2 linked regions of the Homo sapiens genome follow. The protein of the gene in region 1 purifies or fractionates together with the protein of each later gene. This does not show direct contact. Each region holds a gene or a part of one and is shown in the gene's direction. Other genes may lie near its edges.

What was found. The genes of interacting proteins can lie anywhere in the genome.
Region 2: the proteins of PIP5K1A (region 1) and NRXN3 purify together in Homo sapiens (affinity purification with mass spectrometry; 2 studies listed by BioGRID and IntAct, with this or other methods). This does not show direct contact.

Annotation. Positions count from the first base shown.
Region 1 is NC_000001.11:151,201,502-151,205,251, forward strand, and holds part of PIP5K1A (phosphatidylinositol 4-phosphate 5-kinase type-1 alpha), read left to right. Parts: intron 1-2,304; exon of another isoform or gene 2,305-3,750. UniProt on the Homo sapiens protein: Catalyzes the phosphorylation of phosphatidylinositol 4-phosphate (PtdIns(4)P/PI4P) to form phosphatidylinositol 4,5-bisphosphate (PtdIns(4,5)P2/PIP2), a lipid second messenger that regulates several cellular processes such as signal transduction, vesicle trafficking, actin cytoskeleton dynamics, cell adhesion, and cell motility.
Region 2 is NC_000014.9:78,168,678-78,172,427, forward strand, and holds the start of NRXN3 (neurexin 3), read left to right. Parts: upstream 1-1,695; 5' UTR 1,696-1,997; intron 1,998-3,750. UniProt on the Homo sapiens protein: Neuronal cell surface protein that may be involved in cell recognition and cell adhesion. May mediate intracellular signaling. Functions as part of a trans-synaptic complex by binding to cerebellins and postsynaptic GRID1.

The DNA of each region.
Region 1 (3,750 bases):
ATCATGCCTGGCTATTTTATTTTTTTGTGTTTTTAGTAGTGATGGGGTTTCATCATGTCAGCCAGACTAGTCTTGAACTCCTGACCTCAAGTAATCCGCCCACTTCGGCCTCCAAAAATGCTGGGATTACAGGCATATCGCAAGGTCAGGAGTTCGAGACCAGCCTGGCCAACATGGTGAAACCCCATCTCTACTAAAAAATACAAAAAAATTAGCCAGGCATGTTGGCGCAGGCCTGTAATCCCAGCTACTTAGGAGGCTGAGTCAGGAGAATTGCTTGAACCCGGGAGGCAGAGGTTGCAGTGAGCCGAGATCACACCACTGCACTCCAGTCTGGGTGACAGAGCAAGACTCTGTCTCAAAACAAAAAAAAGGGGGCAAAAAGTGGCTAAATTTCAAGCTCTTGATGGACTATGGAAAGATTATAATGGCCTCCACCAAATCCAAACATGGTAATTGCTCCAATAGCAAAAGTAGTTAAACATCTCTTAGAGCTTATGGTTTGCTTTACTCTGTGTATTTCACTTGTCAACAGTGTAAAAGCTGACAGCTTAATGGTGAAACTATCTTTAATATTGGCAGGGAACAAACTCTCCTAAATAACCTCTCCTTCCCAATTTAAATGCCAGAAGATTGGGAGTGCCTAGAAGTTGTGAGTGGCTTATCAAAAACTGTCAATATGTCCTTGGCTATGACATTTTTGTTTTATATCCATTTTCAGCATTGTCAGAGAACATTGTCCTTTAGGATTTCAGAGTTTCACCAAAACTTAAGTGGAGTTCAGCTAAACAGCTAAGAACAGTAAATGGTTTTAGGGTGGTTGACACGCACACTTCTTGAATTTCTACAGGGCCAGCCTTCTAGCCTTTAACAATTCAGGAAATCATAAACCATCACTTGTTCCTGCCAACTTCCTAATTCCTCTGGTACCATGCAGACAAAGAAACACTCTCTTCCAATCGCAAATAAAATCTTTTTTCTCTTTTTTTAGGTGGACTCTTGCTCTTGTCACCCAGGCTGGAGTGCAGTGGGGTGATCTTGGCTCATTGCAGCCTCAGCCTCCCGGGTTCAAGCGAGTTGCCTGCTCAGCCTCCCAAGTAACAGATTACAGGCACCTGCCACCACATCTGACTAATTTTTGTATTTTAGTAGAGACAGGGTTTCACCATGTTGGCCAGGCTGGTCTCAAACTCCTGACCTCAGGTGATCCACCCATCTCGGGCTCCCATAGTGCTGGGATTACAGGCGTGAGCCACCATGCCCTGCCAGTAAAGTCTTTTTTTTTTTTTGAGAGGGAGTCTCTCTCTGTCGCCCAGGCTGGAGTGCGGTGGAGCAATCTTGGCTCACTGCAGCCTCAGCCTCTAGAGTTCAAGCGATTCTCCTGCTTCAGCTTCCCAAGTAACTGAGATTACAGGCACCTGCCACGTCTGGCTAATTTTTGTATTTTAGTAGAGATCAGATTTCACCATGTTAGTCAGGCTGGTCTCAAACTCCTGACCTCAGGTGATCCTCTCGCCTCAGCCTTGCAAAGTGCTGAGGTACATACAGGCTTTAGCCGCCGCCGCTGGCCTTACTTTATGCCCTTTTTACCACCATGAGGAGAGTAAAGAATTTCTGTCTTGGAGGCTTGATTTGAAGTTAGTGGTTGGGTTAGAAGGGATAGGATACTAAGGTGTACACTGCTCCTATGAAATAAGAGTTGTGGAGTAAAATCATGTGTGACTTCCTCAAGGAAAAGCACTTGAGGCTGGGTACAATGGCTCACACCTATATTCTCAGCACTTTGGGAGGCCAAGGCAGGCGGATCACCTGAGGTCAGGAGTTTGAGACCAGCCTGGCCAACATGGTGAAACCCTGTCTCTGCTAAAAATACAAAAATTAGCCGGGTGTGGTGGCAGGCACCTGTAATCCCAGCTACTCAGGAGGCTGAGGCAGGAGAATTGCTTGAACCCGGGGGACAGAGGTTGCAATGAGTCAAGATCACACCATTGCATTCCAGCCTGGGGGACAAGAGTGAAACTCCATCTCAAAAAAAAAAAAAAGGCCAGGAGCAGTAGCTCACGCCTGTAATCCCAGCACTTTGGGAGGCCGAGGTGGGCGGATCACAAGCTCAAGAGATGGAGACCATCCTAACCAACGTGGTGAAACCCCGTCTCTACTAAAAATACAAAAATTAGCTAGTCATGGTGGCACACTCCTGTAGTCCCAGCTACTCGGAAGGCTGAGGCAGGAGAATTGCTGGAACCCAGGAGGCGCGGGTTGCAGTGAGCTGAGATCACGCCACTGTACTCCATCCTGGAGACAGAGTGAGACTCTGTCTCAAAAAAAAAAAAAAGAAAAAAGAAAAGCACTTAAACCCTAGATAATCATGAGCTGTGTAGTTCCTTTTGCTTCAGACTAGAACATTTTTAAAATGGTCATCGCTCACCTATATGATTTTATCATGTGCACAAATGATTTAGACATAACTTTACAGCTGCTTACCTGACTTTTTCTCCCCCTTAACGGCTCAGGGAGATCCAGAGGATACAGTATTGGAGCATTTTTGCTTGGGACTTTTATAGTAGGGACAGCTTCATCAGTCTGTGATTCTGATTGCTTTGTTCTTCCCAGCAGAGCCCTACCTGTAACCTGCAGTAATCTGTTAACTCCAGTAGTAGGGATTATTGTTGATATATATATATATTTTTTTGAGATGGAGTTTCGCTCTTGTTGCCCTGGTTGGAGTGCAATGGCGCGATCTCGGCTCACTGTAACCTCTGCCTCTGGGGTTTGAGTGATTCTCCTGCCTCTGCCTCCTGAGTAGGTGGGATTACAGGCACCCGCCAACACGCCCGGCTAATTTTTGTATTTTTAGTAGAGACGGGGTTTCGCCATGTTGGCCAGGCTAGTCTCAAACTCCTGATCTCAGGTGATCTGCCCACTTCAGCCTCCCAAAGTGCTGGTATTACAGGCGTGAGCCGCCACGCCCGGCCTGTGGATGTTTTTTTGATCTGTGTTCTGTTGTGTACAGTGTAAGCCATTTGTAGGCTGATTTCTTTCCTAGTTCTTCCTCTTAGTGAAAAGTAAAGCAGTTTAGATCATGTTGAATGATAAACTGAAATTTAGAAATGCAAACATAGAATACAATGTCAGAATATCACCAGGTGCCATTTTGGTTGATATTTTATAAATAGGGAGATATTTTTCTGTTTACTCTCCATAGGGATTTTGACACTTTCCACCCACCCCTTTTTCCTTTTGTCACCTTGGTATATTCTGCCAGAAAACTGACATCAGAATGTCATTGCTTCTGATCGATTTATTTCTGCCATGACACTCAAGCCCATTGTCAGTTATAATTAACTAGTCTAATAGGTATCCAGTTTCTGATATTAATTGATAATGTGTACTTACACGTTAGCGTTGAATATCAAAATAGTACGTTTTGCTTATTAATGTCTGTGGGCTTTTTTAGGTTAATTTAAAACTCTTCTGATTAATACCTTTGCTCAAATATGTGCTACCTAATAGCTATTAAATATTTTATTAGCCTGTTTTTCTTGGATAATAAAGTGGAAACTATAGCCTGTGAAGTGAACAACAGAGATAATACCAGGCCAGCTAGCAAACTGGGGAGAGGGAAGGTGGTAATTTTATCCTTTAAATTGTTCTCTCCTAGAATGTTATTTATTATTTTTTTGAGACAGAGTCTTGCTCTGTCGCCCAGGCTACAGACCAGTGTAGTGCAGTGGTGCGATCTTGGCTCAC
Region 2 (3,750 bases), on another chromosome or scaffold:
GGAGGTCAGATGTCATATAAAATTAATCCATGAAGGCATGTTCGTTTGTGTTCCTAAAACTACTGGATACCGTGGAGGTGTTGAAGGCTGGAGACCCGAAGACACATAAGAAAATGAGATTGTGATCTGAAAGGCAAAATAGACTGAAAAGTAGGCTAGTAATGATGGAAGTGCATATGTCCGTCTAGTCCCAGCCCAGATGCCACTTTAGTCCACCAAGCTTGCCTTGATATCCCCCACCTCCAAATCACAATTAATCACTTGCTTATCGACAATCCCATAGAGCTTCCTTTACATTGCTCTCATGATTATTTTCCCTTTGCTTTATAGAAACACATTTCTGTCCTCCTCCAATGCTTAGTGGAGTCCTTGGGGTTCAGACCTTGATAGATTCATTTTGTTTCTCATGAGCATGATGCCGGGTACATGTGCTATTAAAGTTTGCTGGGTCAGGAAAGTGCTAGGATGCTGCAAGAACATCCAGTAAAGGGCAGAAATATAAGAACTACCATCCTTGGCTGGAGGCAATAGAGTACTGTGGCTAACAGGCAGGCTCTGGAGTGGGATAGACTTGAGTTCAAATTCATTCTTAGCAGCTTCCAGCTGTGTAACCTTGGGCACCCTCTCTAAAGCTTCAACTTTTAAGACTGTGGAATGGATCTCAACTGTCAAATAGCACAAACCTCACTGGACTGAATGAGATGACCCACGTAGTGGCATATGGTAAGTGCTCAACAGCTATTAGTGGATTGGTGCTGGTCCAAGGGAGGACATGCCAGTGCAGCCCTTAAAAAGGGAGCTGGAGAAGAAAGGAGTTTGGGGCTGCATTTTCACATAAGGTGCCAGGGCCTGATGCTGAGCAAAACCTTTGTATTGGGTGCCACCGACTGTCATCTCTTGTTTAGGTTTGACTGGGGAAACGTTTCCACAGACATGAACTAGTTTGTCAAGGCTGGCAAGGGATTTTCAAGGGTTTAGGGGTGCAGTCTAGGCTCAGAGCTCAGAGTGCAAGCCACAAAAGAGAGCCATCTTCCTGAGTCACCAAAACACTTGATTCGGGCCTCTGACCCTTAGCTGGCAGCCCCTTAGGATAGGATGGGCTGTGCCTGGGTCTGTCTTTGCTGCTAGGGGCTCTGAGAGAGGAAGCCCCATTTGTCACTTTCATTTCTATGTCCCCAGCCCCTTGCAGTATGCTTCATCCTAAGCAGGCATTCAAAGTGCTTGTTGAAGGAATAGATTTGTGTCCTAGTTACAGCCCTGACTTCCACTAGATGCTCAAAGATTGCCCTGATTTTGCAAGGAAGAGCAACTACTCAGGGAAACTGAGGCACACTTGTAGGTTAGAGTCCCTCAGTCTGCAAGGAGACACACACATCCTCAGCAGTGGGGAAGTGGTTTGGTTACTGAAGCTGTAAATAAGAATTTTGTCTTTATATTAATTCCTACTCTGATTCTAGGGAAGAACTCTCCTCTCAGGCTGGAGTAAGGGGAGAACTGAGCTCAGACACTGCCTCTTAGTTGTGGGGGCTGCAAACTGCCCCTCCCTCATGATATCTTCTCAGCTGTTTGCAAAACAGTCAGGGAGGAGGTGAAGCCCTGAGCCAGGCGGCCTGTCTGTCTCTTTAAATGCTGGGGTCTGTGTGGGAGAGGGAGGGGCCGGCTCTGGAGTGCGTGAAATTCCTGGGCTCCTCCAGCAGTCTCAGGCTCAGCGCTCAGCCCTACACATCGCCTCTTGCATGCAACTCACAGAGAGGGAGAGGCAACCTGTCCTCCCCTCTCTCAGCCTCGGCATCTCCAGCCACCAAGGACCTGCTTTTCGCACCTCCAACAACCCCTCCCTTCTACCCTGCCACTCCCTCCCAGAGAGAAAGGAAAAGGAGAGAGAAAGATTCTGGAATTTGAACCTACCCAAAGAGGAAACATACCCAGCAAACTCAGTTGATTAAACATCAAACAGACATACAGACAGATCCCAAATCTTCTGTTCAACTGGAAAGGTAAGGTTTGCGGGGAAAGGAAGGCAGTCAGGGCATGAAACAACTCAAGGTTCTTGTCCGTTCTGGGAAGAGGTTGCTCCTGAGAGGGTAGAAGTTTTCAGTTGGGAGCAACCAACCTAGATTTTCTTTTTTGAATACTGTATCCATGAGCCTTGGCTGACTGTGGAAATGGCTTTTCAACTGCCTTTCTTTTCCTTCAGTTTCTCCTGGAAGTTGGGTCCTTTTCCTCCAGATGTTGGAAAAGTCAGAGAATGTTTTAGATTTTTATCTTCTTCTTCTTTTTTTTTTTTTTTTTTTGAGTCTTTCTCCTATTTGCTTGAATTGTTAGTCTGAAATGATGTGTGCTCATCACTTCATTTTGGGCAGATACTTTTTTTTTGACATTTTGTAGTCACTTCCCCCCTCATTTATTCATTTATTTATTTGGGCTGGTTAAAATGAGAAACAGAAAGGACACTCTGAGGATCACAAGAAAACAAAATTGAATTGAGACAGGGATTTCCCTAGCTGTTGAGGAATTGACGTGTATGTGAGTGTGTGTGTGCTTTTTTTTTTTTTTTTTGAGGGGGTGTGAGGAGGTGGTCCTAGAGTCTAAAAATTCAGGTTGGACTCCTGTCTTGTGAAGGTGGGCATACTTGGAGAAGGTGAAAAGGGAGTGTGTGTGTGAGTGTGTGTGTGTGTGTGTGCGCGGGTGTGTGCTCCTGTTTGGATCGGTTACAAGGGAATCTTCCTCCACTGCCTTCCATTTGTTTATATTAATGATTTAGTAGCAGGCTTGCCTGAAAACTTCCACTCTGTGTAAGCACTGTGGGTTTTGCAAGCTCTCAGTGACCTTAAAGCCTGGTTCGATGTATTGTTTTTTCCAGGCATTGTGCTGTACCCAGAGTTTCAGCTCTTTCCCTCTCTCTTTTTTAACCACAAAACTTAACTGCTTTAGAAACATCATCCTGATGACAAGGAAAAAAATGTGTCCCCCCACCCCCCATCCCTTCTTAGGCCAGTGATGTAATACCAACCTAAGGGCTCGGCTGCTTTGCAGGTGACTTACCCTGTGATTACTTGTTAAAAAAAAATAAAATTTTCCCTTCCTCCATTAAATGTCTGCCTCTTTTAATTTGGATGTAGAAATATCATCATGCAATGAGAACATCATATTTTTGCTAACCATTATTGGGGTTTAGGTAAAGTAGGATTGCTCTTCTCTGATCTTTATTGTTAATACTTTTTTTTTTAATGCAAAGGTCAGAGATCATTGAGAGCTAGCTTAGGATGGAGCAAGATAGAGTCAGGGCAAATAAAAGAGCTGGTAGGACAAGAGCTGTCTTCTCCCCGCTTCCTTCGGTTCCCGCTTTGGGGAGATAGTTTTTCTTTTACCACTACAAGCCACCCCAACATTCTTCTTTCTTCCTCTCCGCTGGGTCCTGTGGATGGCCCTGGGAGGGAGAGGGGGCACTCCTTGTCACACCTGGAGGATGGTGTAATTTTGGGGGTCAGATGACCGTTTGCCTTTGTGATGAAGGTTCCAGTGGAAATTTGAACTCCCAGCACGCTGCGTGACTTGGTACCCAGGATAGTCTATCTGGGGGCACCTGGAGGTTAGTCTGGGGAGGCTGGAGAACTGGCTCTTTATTAATTTGCCGTTCTGGGTAGAGCCTTCCTTCATCGTTCAAGGGCTTCTGCATCGCCTTTCAAGTTAAAATGGTCCCGCTGGTTATGATGGGCAAGTTTACCTAAGGGCTACTGGGTATGTGGC